Regions from separate parts of the Homo sapiens genome. Here region 1 is linked to region 2. Evidence: fine-mapped expression QTL. Tissue or cell type: whole blood. Region 2 holds a variant in brackets; the other region holds the start of a gene. All regions are shown on one strand. Distances are between the middles of the regions.

What was found. PIP is the estimated chance that this variant, and not a neighbour inherited with it, causes the effect.
Region 1: RBM28 starts here. The variant in region 2 is fine-mapped to the expression of RBM28 in whole blood (TOPMed, PIP above 0.99).

What each region holds. Positions count from the first base shown.
Region 1 is chr7:128,340,800-128,346,948 of GRCh38, reverse strand. RBM28 (RNA binding motif protein 28) reads left to right here and starts at 3,041. Exons shown (of 19, transcript NM_018077.3): 1 at 3,041-3,273. The coding sequence starts at 3,156. It also overlaps the pseudogene RNU7-27P. RefSeq lists an enhancer at 2,901-3,100.
Region 2 is chr7:128,295,370-128,303,139 of GRCh38, reverse strand. It overlaps RBM28 (RNA binding motif protein 28), which reads left to right. Exons shown (of 19, transcript NM_018077.3): 19 at 1-5,455. Among named protein-coding and RNA genes, the nearest start is that of RBM28, 45 kb to the left of the region's middle. RefSeq lists an enhancer at 3,630-3,924. The variant C/T (reference allele first, on the strand shown) is at 3,703.

The sequences.
Region 1 (6,149 bases), 45 kb before region 2:
TGAGAGGGTTCTGAGAAAGTTAGCCAAACCTTTAGCAGAAAAATACCTAGGGGAAACCTTCAACAGAGAGGGCCCTTCTCCATCACAGTGCTCTTGCTCACTCCTCTCTCAAACAAGGGCAATTTTTCAAGAGTGTTAATGGGAAACCATTAGGCATCCACCTTAAGGTCCTATTTTGGCTCCTTCTGACTTAGTTTTGTTTCCTAATCTTAAAAAATCTTTAAGGGGCTCACATTTTTCTTCAATTATATATATATATATATATATATATATATATATATATATATATATATATAGAGAGAGAGAGAGAGAGAGAGAGAGAGAGAGAGAGAGAGAGAGAGAGAGAGAGACTGCATTGACATGCTTAAATTCCAAAGACCTTAAGTTCTTTAGAGATGGACTAAGTGGCTGGTATCATTGCTTACAAATGTGTTTTGAACTTGATGGAGCTAATGTTGAAAAATAAAGTTTAGGCTGGGTATGGTGGCTCATGCCTGTTATCCCAGCACTTTGGGAGGCCGATGACGGCTGATCACTTGAGGTCAGGAGTTCAAGACCAGCCTGGCCAAGTTGGTGAAACTCTGTCTTTACTGAAAATACAAAAATTAGCCAGGCATGGTGGTGGGTGCCTGTAATCTCATCTACTCAGGAGGCTGAGGCAGGAGAATTGCTTGAACCTAGGAGGTGTAGGTTGCAGTGAACCGAGATCGCACCACTGCATTCCAGCCTGGGTGACAGAGCGAGACTCTGCTCAGAAAAAAAGAAAAATAAACTTGTATTTTATTTTCAGAAGTCTCGAACTCCTGAGTTCCAGTGATCTACCCATCTTGATCTCCCAAAGTGAGTTATATATTTTTTTGAGATGGAGTCTTCCTTTGTTGCCCAGGCTGGAGTGCAGTGGTGCAATCTCGGCTCACTGCAACCTCTGCCTCCTGAGTTCAAGCGATTCTCCTGCCTCAGCCTCCCGAGTAGCTGGGATTACAGGCATGTGCCACCATGCCCGGCTACTTTTTGTATTTTTAGTAGAGACGGGGTTTCACCATGTTGGCCAGGCTGGTCTCGAACCCTTGATCTGGTGATCCACCCACCTCGGCCTCCCAAAGTGCTGGGATCACGGCCGCTCCTGGCCGTGAGTTGTATTTTTAAAAAATAATCGTGAAGTTTTATTTTAAGCATAGATTACTTACTTCGAACTAGAGCTCCATAAATGTGATGTTTAGCGTCCCCCTAATCTCCACTCCCATCACTATCAACCAGTCGTCTAGCCATCCAAAATGTATTGAAAGTGAATGGGGCTTGAGGAGATCATGAAACTTAATTTTCACCATAGTGCCTTATAAAAGGTACTAAAACTGTAAAGTTTTTGAGTTTTCTATCTGCCATGTTACTATCATTTAAAAGTAATGATTTGGCTGGGCTCAGTGGCTCACGCCTATAATCCCAACACTTTGGGAGGCCGTAGTGGGAGGATTGGTTTATCCCAGGAGTTCAAGACTAGCCTGGGCAACACAGGGAGAACTGTCTGTACAAAAAAATAAATAAATTGGCCAGGCATGGTGGTACACACTTGTGGTCCTAGCTTCTCAGGAGGCTGAGGTGGCAGTATTGCTTGAGCCCAGGAGATCAAGGCTGCAGTGAGCCATGATGGTGCCACTGCACCCCAAGTTGGGTGACAGAGCAAGAGTCTGCTAAAAAAAAAATTATTTAAAAAATGGCCTTGGGTACTTTTTTTTGAGCTAGTTGTTCTGCAAGGTGTAGCTCTCTTGCACCTATTCAGGTCCTGAGCCCAGTGGCATGGCAAACACTCTCTGTGTTCCAGAACCAGGAGCACCCAGATTTCCTAGCCAATTAAGAGCTCTCAGCTTTGGGTCTGTCTGATGAGCTGACTTGAGACAAAGATCTTCTGTTTCTAGGAGGACATGGGTTCTAGGTCTCTGTGTATAAGTTGGATGTTATGTTTGCTTTGAGTGTGTTTGATGTGGTCCTGCAGTGTGTGTGCTGTGATTTATTTGTAAGAATTTTTGGACTAATAGTCTTCCCAGCCAGGTGTGGTGGTTCACACCTATAATCCTAGCACTTTAGGAGGCTAAGGGGGGCTAATTGAGCTCAGGAGTTTGAGACCAGCCTGGGCAACATGGTGAAACCCTGTCTCTGCAAAAAATACAAAAATTAGCCGGGTGTGGTGGTGCACCTGTAGTTCCAGCTACTCAGGAGGCTGAGGCAGGAGGACTGCTTGAACCTGGGAGGTCGAGGCTGCAGTAAGCCGAGATCGTGCCAGTGCACTCCGGCCTGGTTGATAAAGTGAGGCCCTGTCAAAAAAAAAAATCTGTTTCCACCATTAGACTGTAATCTCTATGAGGGCAGGGACCCTGTCATTTCTTTGCTCACCAGTTTTATCCCTAATGCTTGGCTCATAGTTAGAGCTCAGTATATATTTATTGAAATAATAATTGTGTACTATCTGTGTCTATGTGTATTTTAGTAGCTACAATTTGTTTGTGAGGCTGAGGTGACAGACAGCTGGTGTTCTCCGAAAATGAGAATCGTCCGAATGATGTATATGATATATCTATGTCTACGTGTTAGTGTTCCGGTTGTGTTTTATGCACGTAATCTGGGAATTTGTGGAGGCACTTCAGAAAATATCAAACACCCACAGTATATCAGATCCTGAGTTACGCCCGGGGCAAAAACGACTTCTTCTGCCTGTCCTGCTAACTTTGGGGAGGATCTGGAGGTGAGATTTTTAAACAGGGTAGAAATTATTTATTTTTATTTTGTATATTAAGAAAAAAAATTACTTTTTGGAGGCCTTCCGGCAAAAACCAGAAAGCCTGCTAGGCAAATTCTAAAAAAGCTGTAACACTAGGGTAGAAATTATTGATGCCAAGTTTACACAAAAGTGGCGAGGGCGATGCTAGGGCAGGGGGCGGAGCCCCGCTCCAGAAGCTACGCCCCGGGGCGCCATTATTTTTTCATTCCGGAACCTTTTATCCCCCTCCCGACCATGTTTTCCTCCGGTCTCTTTTGGGCAACGAGCACTTCCGGAATCTCTCGGCGTGTGAGCTTGGTTGTCCTACCAAAGCCAGCGTTTCGGCTCGCGTGCGCCGGCCTAGTTTGCTCGCGTCCTCACGCGCTTTGGGTTTCCCGGTCTCATGGCCGGCCTGACCTTATTTGTGGGCCGCCTCCCGCCCTCGGCCCGCAGTGAGCAGCTGGAGGAACTGTTCAGTCAGGTGGGGCCGGTGAAGCAGTGCTTCGTGGTGACTGAAAAAGGTAGGGGCGGGGCGGTCGAGGATAGGGCTGGGGTTTCCTGCGATCGAGGGCACCTTCCCAAACTTCAGGGAGCCGTATCATTCTTTACCCTCCCCGAAGAGAAGGGACAGGGAACTGAGTTTCTTTTCCAAACTGATTCTGCTTTAGATGCGTTCATAGGAGTCAGTTTATGAAGGGCAAAGCATTCCCTTACGTTTCTATAGCGCTTTCTGTTGATTATGCGCGCTAAAAATGAAAATAGTTAACTAGAGCATCAGTAAGACTTATTGAGAGTCACCTGATTGGCAGGTACAGTGATCAGTTTGATACAGGTTATCTCATTTAATTTTCTCAGCAATCTTACCGGATGGAGAGTCTTAATGTCATTTTACAGACAGGAATCCGGGATTTAGGGGAATTTAGTAACTTTAAGTTTGTACGGCTGTTAAGTAGTGGACCCCCGATTTGATCCTCAGACCTGGACATCTTAGCCAGGATGCTATCCACTTGTTCATTCATTTATTCAGCAAATACTTAATACCTACTGTGTGCCAGGAAGTGTTGTAGGTCCTGGGGATGCAGCAGTGCACAACACCAAACCAAAAAAATCTTTGATTTTATGTCTTCAAGGTGGGGAAGAGAGCCAATAAACGAGCCAATAAACAAGCCAACCGTGAAAATGATGTCAAATGCTAAGGAGAAAAATAAGCCAGGGAAAGGGGTTAGGAAGTCTATGTGCATGTGTATAGTGGGGAGAGGGGGTGAAGAGTGGCAATATAGATAGGGTGGCCAGAGAAGGACGGACTGAGGTGAGAGAGTGAACACATGCCTCTCCGGAGGAAGAACAATTCAGGAAGAGAAAACAGCAAGCTCAAAGGTACTGAAACAGAGGTGTTTTTGGTATATTGGAGGAGTAGTAAGGAGGACAGGGTGACTGGATTGAAGTGAGTAAAGGGAAGAGAATTAGGAGATGAGATCTAGAGTAGCAGATCATGTAAGATTTTTTTTTTTTTTTAAAGACTGCGTCTTGCTCTGTCGCCCAGGCGGGAGTGCAGTGCCACGATCTCCGCTCACTGCAACCTCTGCCTCCTGGTTCAACCCATTCTCCTGCCTCAGCCTCCCAAGTAGCTGGGATTACAGGCGAGTGTCACTACACCTGGCTAATTTTTGTATTTTTAGTAGAGACGGGGTTTCGCTATGTTGGCCAGGGTTGTCTGGAACTCGAGACCTCAGGTGATCCGCCCGCCTCATGTAGGATGTTATAGACCATTGCAAGGACTTTGGCTTTTACTCAGAGATAGGAAGCCACTGATTTTAAGCAGAGAGCAGTAAGTGTGATCTGGCATTCGTTTTGAAAGATTCTCTCTCTGGCTGGTGTGTTGCCAATAGACTGTTGGAGAATAGGACAAAAGCTTATGTACTTAAAATAGGGACCGAAAGTCCTGTACAGTAATGTTTATTAAACTGCAGATTATTACCTATTAGTGGGTCTTGAGTGGGTCATGACTAGAGTTTGTTTTGTTGTGTTTTAGAAACAGGGTCTTGCTCTGTCAACCCTGTTGACAGTTGGAGTGCAGTGGTGCGATCACAGCTCAATGTAACCTTAAACTCCTGGGCTCAAGCAATCCTCCTACTTCAGCCTCCCAAGTAGCTATGACTACAGACGTGCTTCACCATGCCTGGCCAATTTTTGAATATTTTTTGTAGAGACAGGGTCTCACTACGTTGTCCAGGCTGGTTTCAAATGATCCTCCTGCCTTGGCCTCCCAAAGCACTGGGATTACAGGCATGTGCCACCACGCCTGGCCTAGAGTTCTTAAAAAATTAAATAGTATAGGAGTACGTCCATATATGGTAAAGGATAAGTATTTGTAAAACTTTTAAGTTTTAAATAAAGAATATATGTATGTACTGGGTTCCAGTGTAAGTAGCATTCCGTACCCAGGTGGTTGTATTCCAGGGAAGAATAGGCCATTGAATGGGAGTTCTCCTTTGAGTCCTCAGAATATAGGCTACATGCAATCTTACCTTACACCTTGTGTACTTGGTCTAAATCCTTAAAAATCTCTTACTTCCTTTTAAAAAACTATGCACTTTCCTATCCAGACAGCTGATATGTACTGGAAAGAGTGCTGCACTCAGTGAAACGGGAGGGAGGGTATGTGGAATGAAGTCTTCCTCAATAGCAGTGCATGTCACTTCACCTCTTTAAGATGGGAATAATTTCACAGGGTTGTCAGGGACTCTAAATGTATGTGAGCATGCTTTATGCAGACATGTAAAATGTGTGGTATTTACTGTATGTCCTTTCATTTGGGTGTCAAACTCTTTTACATTTCAGCTGCTTTACTTTTGGTTGTACTGATCATGAAGGGCTATGAATTTTCTTGTGCTCATTTTCTGAAAGGTGAGTGGGCAGCTTTTATGATAAGGAGTTCAAGAGAAGAGAAAAATTGATGTTATGTTGCTTTAACCAGTTTATGTAGATCAGTGTCCTGTGTCAAAGGGCTTATACCCTGAAGGAGATTCAAATGCAGTGGAAAGAGAAGCAGAGCATATGAACTATGTGTCCTTTTCAGGTAAAGGCAGACTTCTTGATCTGTCCTTTTCCTTTTTGATGCAATAAATTATTTAAAATTTTACTATACAAAATGTTAAACCAAAAAGGGCAAAGGTGGGTTACAGTTGATATTTGTAGTTTTCATCTCCTTGGTCCTAATATTATTCTTTGTGGAGTCCTATGGAAGAACATGGGGGCTGGTGAGGAGGAGTTAATTCAGCTACTAACACCCTGTGTGACATTAACCAATTCACTTACTGTCTTCCATCTCAAATTACTTACTTGGAAAGAAGGGGTGATAATATTTGCTTTACCTATTTTGAGGTGTTCTAAAGAT
Region 2 (7,770 bases):
CAAATTAGGTGGTAAGAAAAGGAAGGGCATTTTCATTCTCACATTCTTTGAATGTTGAAACGTTTTAAAAACTTCCAGCTGGGCTTGGTGGCTCATACCTGTAACCCCAGCACTATGGGAGGCTGAGATGGGAGGATCCCTTGAGGCCAGGAGTTCAGGACCAGCCTGGGCAACATAGTAAAACTGCCCAAAATTTGAAAATTAGCCTTGTGTGGTGGTGTGCACTGTAGTCCCAGCTGCTCGGGAGGCTGGGGCAGGAGGATTGCTTGAGCCCAGGAGTTTGAGGCTGCAGTGAGCTATGGTTGTACCACTGTACTCCAACCTGGGCAACAGCGTGATACCCTGTCTAAAAAAATAATAAAAATAAAAAAGGATTAAACCCTTTACTTGACCAGCTTCTTTTCCTGCTACCCCTGGACTAACTAATCATTACATATTTTTGTAGTTGTTTTTTCTTTCTTTCTCTCTCCTGATCTACCACAAGCCAAATGTACTCATATACATACTAATAGGTGAAAAAAGAGAGTCTGAGGAGTGAATACATTTATTTTGTGATTTCCTAGGCAGTAGCTAGGACTCCCTTAGAGGTTGCTAATAGGGAAAGGGTGCGCTGGCTCTACTCAGTTTTATAACTGCTTTTCCCCGAATTCTGCAGACATCTTCATTCCCCTGGAGGTCAGATAATGGCTATTTATTTTCCATAGCCATGAAAATCTCTGGGGAGAGCTGTGGCAATTTGACGAGAGCTATTAAAGGGACATTAGGATTGAAGTAGCTGCTCAGGCAGTCACATACCCTCGATCCTCATCTGCAGGGACAGCTGCCAGAACGAATGAGCCCAGCTCTCCTGCCCGCAGCCAGCCGCGTGTGGGTGCAACTGGCGACCAGCCACTGGAGTGAGTCCCAGGGAAGGGGACAGGTTCTTAGAATCACCATTTGTCTCTGCTCTCTCCCTCTCTGCAATAGGACGGGCACTCTAAACTCACATAATGGTTAATAACAACAGCTAACAATTACTGAGCACCTACTATGTGTCAGGCATGTGCTGAGGATGATCGCATCAAGTAAAATGCCTGTCTCTGGCCCAGAGGCCCAGAAGAAGAGAAAGAAGGGAAATCTGTAGGAGGCAAACAGTCCCTTACCCCTCTGCTTGCAGACCTTCAGTGACAGGACACTCCCTGTTTGCTCCAAGCACCTCTTGCATTTTCAGAGCTTGGGACACAGATTCAGGGACTTGCACTTCGATAGAGTGCCTCAGGACCCCTCGTCGGAGCCATGGAAAGTCAGTTTCTGGGCCCATCCTTCCTGTGGGGGTGTCTTTCCTTCTCTTGGCCACCCCCTAGGAATCCCTAGTAGAGAGCAGGCACTTAATAGCCAGTGCAGTGAGAGTGGTCTGTGATGTCTGGGCCAGGGCAAGGCCCGCCAAGTGGGCTCCCAGGTGCCTGCCACAGAGCCTCTGGGGTTTGAGGCCCTCAGTGACCCTTAGGCAATAGCTGGGTCTTAATGAGGGATCATGTCCTTTCCTGGGTAGTCGTGGGTAGAGGGGTGTGAACTGATCTGAGCTACTCTAGGAAGGCTAGAGACAAAAGCAGGAACCAAGAGAAGGGCTGAGGCTCCTTCCAAGAGACTCCAAGTCCTGAGGGCAAGAAGCGGAGAGCCTTGTGCCAGGCCAGGTGTTGCCCCTGTCAGTGCTGACGGACAGGCAAGAGAGGCTGCTGATGCTGCAGCCCTGTGAAGCTGAGACTCACCCTTTGCCCACTTTCACAGCCATCTCCCCAGGAGGCTGTGGTGACACAGGTAAAAGCCAAAGGACAGAGGATGACCCTGGACAAATCACTCAGACCCTCCAGTCCTCTTTGCTCATTTATAAAATACAGGCAAAAAGCCCCCTAGTACTAAATGAAATAGCCACTGTAAAAGAGCACGGGAGATAGGGTCTGTGATGTCTTTTGTCCCCAGTGTCCTGAGTGAATTCACAGGAAAGGGGAGAAAGACTGGTTGCCCACTTCCAGGGTGATTGGCTAATTTCCACTTCTTTCCTGCTAGGGATGGGAACACACGCCAGAATCCTGGGAAGGCTACATGTCCTCAGGTGGTGCTGGCCCCACCTCCAGCCTCTGCAGGGATACCAGGATATGAGCCAGGCTCTGCTCCCGGGGTGACCCATCCTCCTCAGTGCCCCTTCTTTCCTCACAACTGCAGGCAGAAGGAGAGTGTGTCCTGTCTCTCTGAGGAGCTGGCTGTGCCATTTAAGCAGGCCCTAGGGGTGGAGCGCTGTGAAGAGATGGCACCCAGGTCCCTGTTCCTCCTTTTCCAGAGCAAACACTGCTAAGGGATCATGACAGTCCCTGCATCTGGCCCAGACTGGGCCTTGGGAGGCTTTTGACATCAATCCATGCAACCGCACCCAACAATTGGAGTCAGCATGGGAGGTGAGACCCACTTGCCAATTTTGCTCTCAGGGAACAGCCCTCTTTACTAAAACATAGCACAGTATTGATAACAGTTGTTTCCAGGCATCGTAGAAAGCGTTTAGTGGGCATTAACGTCTTTGATCCTCACCACAAGGTCAGGGGTTGGATGATGTTAGCATGCTCATTGAAGGATCAGAAAAGTCAGGCTCAAGATAGCTCGCCCTTCATTCAGCCAGCCGGTGTTAACTGAATATTAACTGTGCACCCGTCTGTGCCAGTGTTCCCCCAGGAGCTGCAGAGGGTCCTGAGCAGAGTGAGCTCAAGCCACTTGGGAGCTCACATTCCAGCTATCAGTGCTGATTCATCTCAAATGTTTGATCCACGCTGGGTTCTAACCCTTCCCTGCTCAGAGCCCTCAGAGTCCAGGTCAGGTAGAACCCAGAACAGAGCCTCTGGCAGGAAGGAGCTTGCATGGTCCTCAGGCTTCATGTCCAGAGATCATTCCTCCACTTTGAGCTTCTTTGTGAAAACCAATCACAAAGAGAGGAGGGGTGAAATGTGCCAAAGCCTCTGCCAGGGTTGTAGCAAGGAAACCTGGGCTTCTAGGGAAAGTTGAGAAAGGGCCTATATTAGTCAGGAGGGCTACTGTAAGAGAGTACCACAGGCTGGGTGGCTTAAACAACAGAAATTTATCACCTTACGGTTCTGGAGGCTAGAAGTCTAAAATCAAAGTGTTGGCAAGGTTGGTTCCTTCATGAGGAATTTCTTGGCGTTGCCTGGCATATAGATGCATCACTGCAGTCTCTGCCTCGTTGTCACATGGCCATCTTCTCCCTGTGTCTATAGGTCTATGTCCAAATTTCCCTCTTCTTATAAAGACACCAGTCATATTGGCTTAGGCCCAGCCCAATGATTTCATCTTAATTTGATTACATCTCTGCTATGGTTTGAATGTGTCCCTTCCAAAATTCAGGTTATTGCCAATGTGATAGTATTGAGATGGGGTCCTTAAAGAAGTAATTAGGCCATGAGGGTGCCTCTCTCTGAAGGGAGGCTCATTGGATTGTATCAGTGTAACATAATTTACATAACCAGTTCTTTATGTGATGGAAATCCCATTCAACGGTTTCCAACCTTTGCTATTACAAACTGCTGTGAAGAGAAACATATGTCATTATACTAATCAGGTGCTGTTGTTGTTTTTATAATGCATTATCCTGGAGAGACTGCCCCTCCCAGGGCTAGCTACTTTGGGGAGAGAGTAAACAACTTGGTCGAGCGTGCCTTT[C/T]GTATGCAAACCAGTCAATCCAGAGCCCACACCCCCAGTCACCTCCTTTATCAAACTCTGACACAGCAAGCCAATATTCCCCCTGCCCTAAATCACTCCAGGGCCAGGCATGGGACAACTAGGGACAATCCCTATAGCCAGGGCCTGCCAAAGTTATACAGATTAGCCAATCCTAAGCCTGCTTCCCTGCCTTGCCTTGCCTTTCTGCTGGAAACTACATTAAAGGCGCTGGATCGTGCTTTTCCCTCACCCCCTCTGCTTCTTGGCTGACCCAAGTTCTTCCTGTGTGGCCCTGCAAGGCGTGACACACCTCTCCTCCTGGGAACTGCATAACAAACTCTTCTTGCAGAGATAGTTTTCTCTGTGTCTGTCATCTTACCATACCTGATGAAAACAAATATGGGTACATTTTTTTTTTTTTTTGAGAGAGAGGGTCTCACTCTGTCTCCCAGGCTGGAGTGCAGTGGTGTAATCACAGGTCACTGCAGCCTCGACCTCCTGGGCTCTAGTGATCCTCCCACGTCAGCCTTGCAAATAGCTGAGACTACAGGCACACACCACCATGCCTAGCTAATTTTTGGTGTATTTGTTATAGAGACAGAGTTTCGCTATGTTGCCCAGGCTGGTCTCAAACTCCTGAGCTCAAGTGATCCACCCACCTTAGCCTCTCAAAGTGCTGGGATTATAAGTGTGAGCCACAGCATCCAGCCATGGGTACATTTTAAAGCAGGCGTTTTGTTCATGTGCAGCCCTTGTTCTCAGTTAAGGGGAAAATGAGTGATCCTTTGCTTGGCTCTGAAGGAGCAGTGTTTTATATGTAAAGAATATATTCTGTATATTTAAAGAAGAGCAATGGGGGGCATTTGAAAATAAATCCGTTCATTTTTTTCTGATTGTAAAAATAATATATGCTCAGTAAAGAGAATCTGAAAAATACAGAAGTATTGGGGGAACCCACCCCCAATATTTCAACATAGGTTCTTTCTATTTTCCATAAGTGTCGGCCGACTGAGAAATAAAGAGAAATAGTACAAAGAGAGGAATTTTAACAGCTGGGCTGCCGGGGGTGACGTCGCATATCAGTAGGACTGTGATGCCCACCTGAGCCTCAAACCAGCAAGTTTTTTATTAAGGGTTTCAAAAGGGGAGGGGGTGTAAAACAGGGAGTAGGTACAAAGATCACATGCTTCAAAGGGCAAAAGCAGAACAAAGATCACATGCTTCTGAGGAAACAAGACAAAAGGCAAAACAGAACTACTGATAAGGGTCTATGTTCAACTGTGCGCGTATTGTCTTTTTTTTTTATTATTTAAGTTTTAGGGTACATGTGCACACTGTGCAGGTTAGTTACATATGTATACATGTGACATGCTGGTCGCTGCACCCACTAACTCGTCATCTAGCATTAGGTATATCTCCCAATGCTATCCCTCCCCCCTCCCCCCACCCCTCAATAGTCCCCAGAGTGTGATGTTCCCCTTCCTGTGTCCATGTGTTCTCATTGTTCAATTCCCACCTATGAGTGAGAATATGCGGTGTTTGGTTTTTTGTTCTTGCGATAGTTTACTGAGAATGATGATTTTCAATTTCATCCGTGTCCCTACAAAGGACATGAACTCATCATTTTTTATGGCTGCATATGTGTATATGTGCCACATTTTCTTAATCCAGTCTATCATTGTTGGACATTTGGGTTGGTTCCAAGTCTTTGCTATTGTGAATAGTGCCGCAATAAACATACGTGTGTGTGTGTCTTTATAGCAGCATGATTTATAGTCCTTTGGGTATATACCCAGTAATGGGATGGCTGGGTCAAATGGTATTTCTAGTTCTAGATCCCTGAGGAATCGCCACACTGACTTCCACAATGGTTGAACTAGTTTACAGTCCCACCAACAGTGTAAAAGTGTTCCTATTTCTCCACATCCTCTCCAGCACCTGTTGTTTCCTGACTTTTTAATGATTGCCATTCTAACTGGTGTGAGATGGTATCTCATTGTGGTTTTGATTTGCATTTCTCTGATGGCCAGTGATGGTGAGCATTTTTTCATGTGTTTTTTGGCTGCCTAAATGTCTTCTTTTGAGAAGTGTCTGTTCATGTCCTTCGCCCACTTTTTGATGGGGTTGTTTGTTTTTTCTTGTAAATTTGTTTGAGTTCATTGTGGATTCTGGATATTAGCCCTTTGTCAGATGAGTAGGTTGCGAAAATTTTCTCCCATTTTGTGGGTTGCCTGTTCACTCTGATGGTAGTTTCTTTTGCTGTGCAGAAGCTTTTTAGTTTAATTAGATCCCATTTGTCAATTTTGTCTTTTGTTGCCATTGCTTTTGGTGTTTTAGACATGAAGTCCTTGCCCGTGCCTATGTCCTGAATGGTAATGCCTAGGTTTTCTTCTAGGGTTTTTATGGTTTTAGGTCTAACGTTTAAGTGTTTAATCCATCTTGAATTGATTTTTGTATAAGGTGTAAGGAAGGGATCCAGTTTCAGCTTTCTACATATGGCTAGCCAGTTTTCCCAGCACCATTTATTAAATAGGGAATCCTTTCCCCATTGCTTGTTTTTCTCAGGTTTGTCAAAGATCAGATAGTTGTAGATATGCGGCGTTATTTCTGAGGGCTCTGTTCTGTTCCATTGATCTGTATCTCTGTTTTGGTACCAGTACCATGCTGTCTTGGTTACTGTAGCCTTGTAGTATAGTTTGAAGTCAGGTAGTGTGATGCCTCCAGCTTTGTTCTTTTGGCTTAGGATTGACTTGGCAATGCGGGCTCTTTTTTGGTTCCATATGAACTTTAAAGTAGTTTTTTCCAATTCTGTGAAGAAAGTCATTGGTAGCTTGATGGGGATGACATTGAATCTATAAATTACCTTGGGCAGGATGGCCATTTTCACAATATTGATTCTTCCTACCCATGAGCATGGAATGTTCTTCCATTTGTTTGTATCCTCTTTTATTTCATTGAGCAGTGGTTTGTAGTTCTCCTTGAAGAGGTCCTTCACGTCCCTTGTAAGGTGGATTCCTAGGTATTTTATTCTCTTTGAAGCAATTGTGAATGGGAGTTCACTCATGATTTGGCTCTCTGTTTGTCTGTTATTGATGTATAAGAATGCTTGTGATTTTTGTACATTGATTTTGTATCCTGAGACTTTGCTGAAGTTGCTTATCAGCTTAAGGAGATTTTCGGCTGAGACAATGGGGTTTTCTAGATATACAATCATGTCGTCTGCAAACAGGGACAATTTGACTTCCTCTTTTCCTAATTGAATACCCTTTATTTCCTTCTCTTGCCTAATTGCCCTGGCCAGAACTTCCAACACTATGCTGAATAGGAGTGGTGAGAGAGGGCATCCCTGTCTTGTGCCAGTTTTCAAAGGGAATGCTTCCAGTTTTTGCCCGTTCAGTAGGATATTGGCTGTGGGTTTGTCATAAATAGCTCTTATTATTTTGAGATACGTCCCATCAATACCTAATTTATTGAGAGTTTTTAGCATGAAGGGTTGTTGAATTTTGTCAAAGGCCTTTTCTGCATCTATTGAGATAATCATGTGGTTTTTGTCTGTGGTTCTGTTTATATGCTGGATTACATTTATTGATTTGCTTATATTGAACCAGCCTTGCATCCCAGGGATGAAGTCCACTTGATCATGGTGGATAAGCTTTTTGATGTGCTGCTGGATTTGGTTTGCCAGTATTTTATTGAGGATTTTTGCATCAGTGTTCATCAAGACTATTGGTCTAAAATTCTCTTTTTTGTTTGTGTCTCTGCCAGGCTTTGGTATCAGGATGATGCTGGCCTCATAAAATGAGTTAGGGAGGATTCCCTCTTTTTCTATTGATTGGAATAGTTTCAGAAGGAATGGTACCAGTTCCTCCTTGTACCTCTGGTAGAATTCGGCTGTGAATCCATCTGGTCCTGGACTCTTTTTGGTTGGTAAGCTATTGATTATTGCCACAATTTCAGCTCCTGTTATTGGTCTATTCAGAGATTCAACTTCTTCCTGGTTTAGTCTTGGAAGAGTGTATGTGTTGAGGAATTTATCCATTTCTTCTAGATTTTCTAGTTTATTTGCAT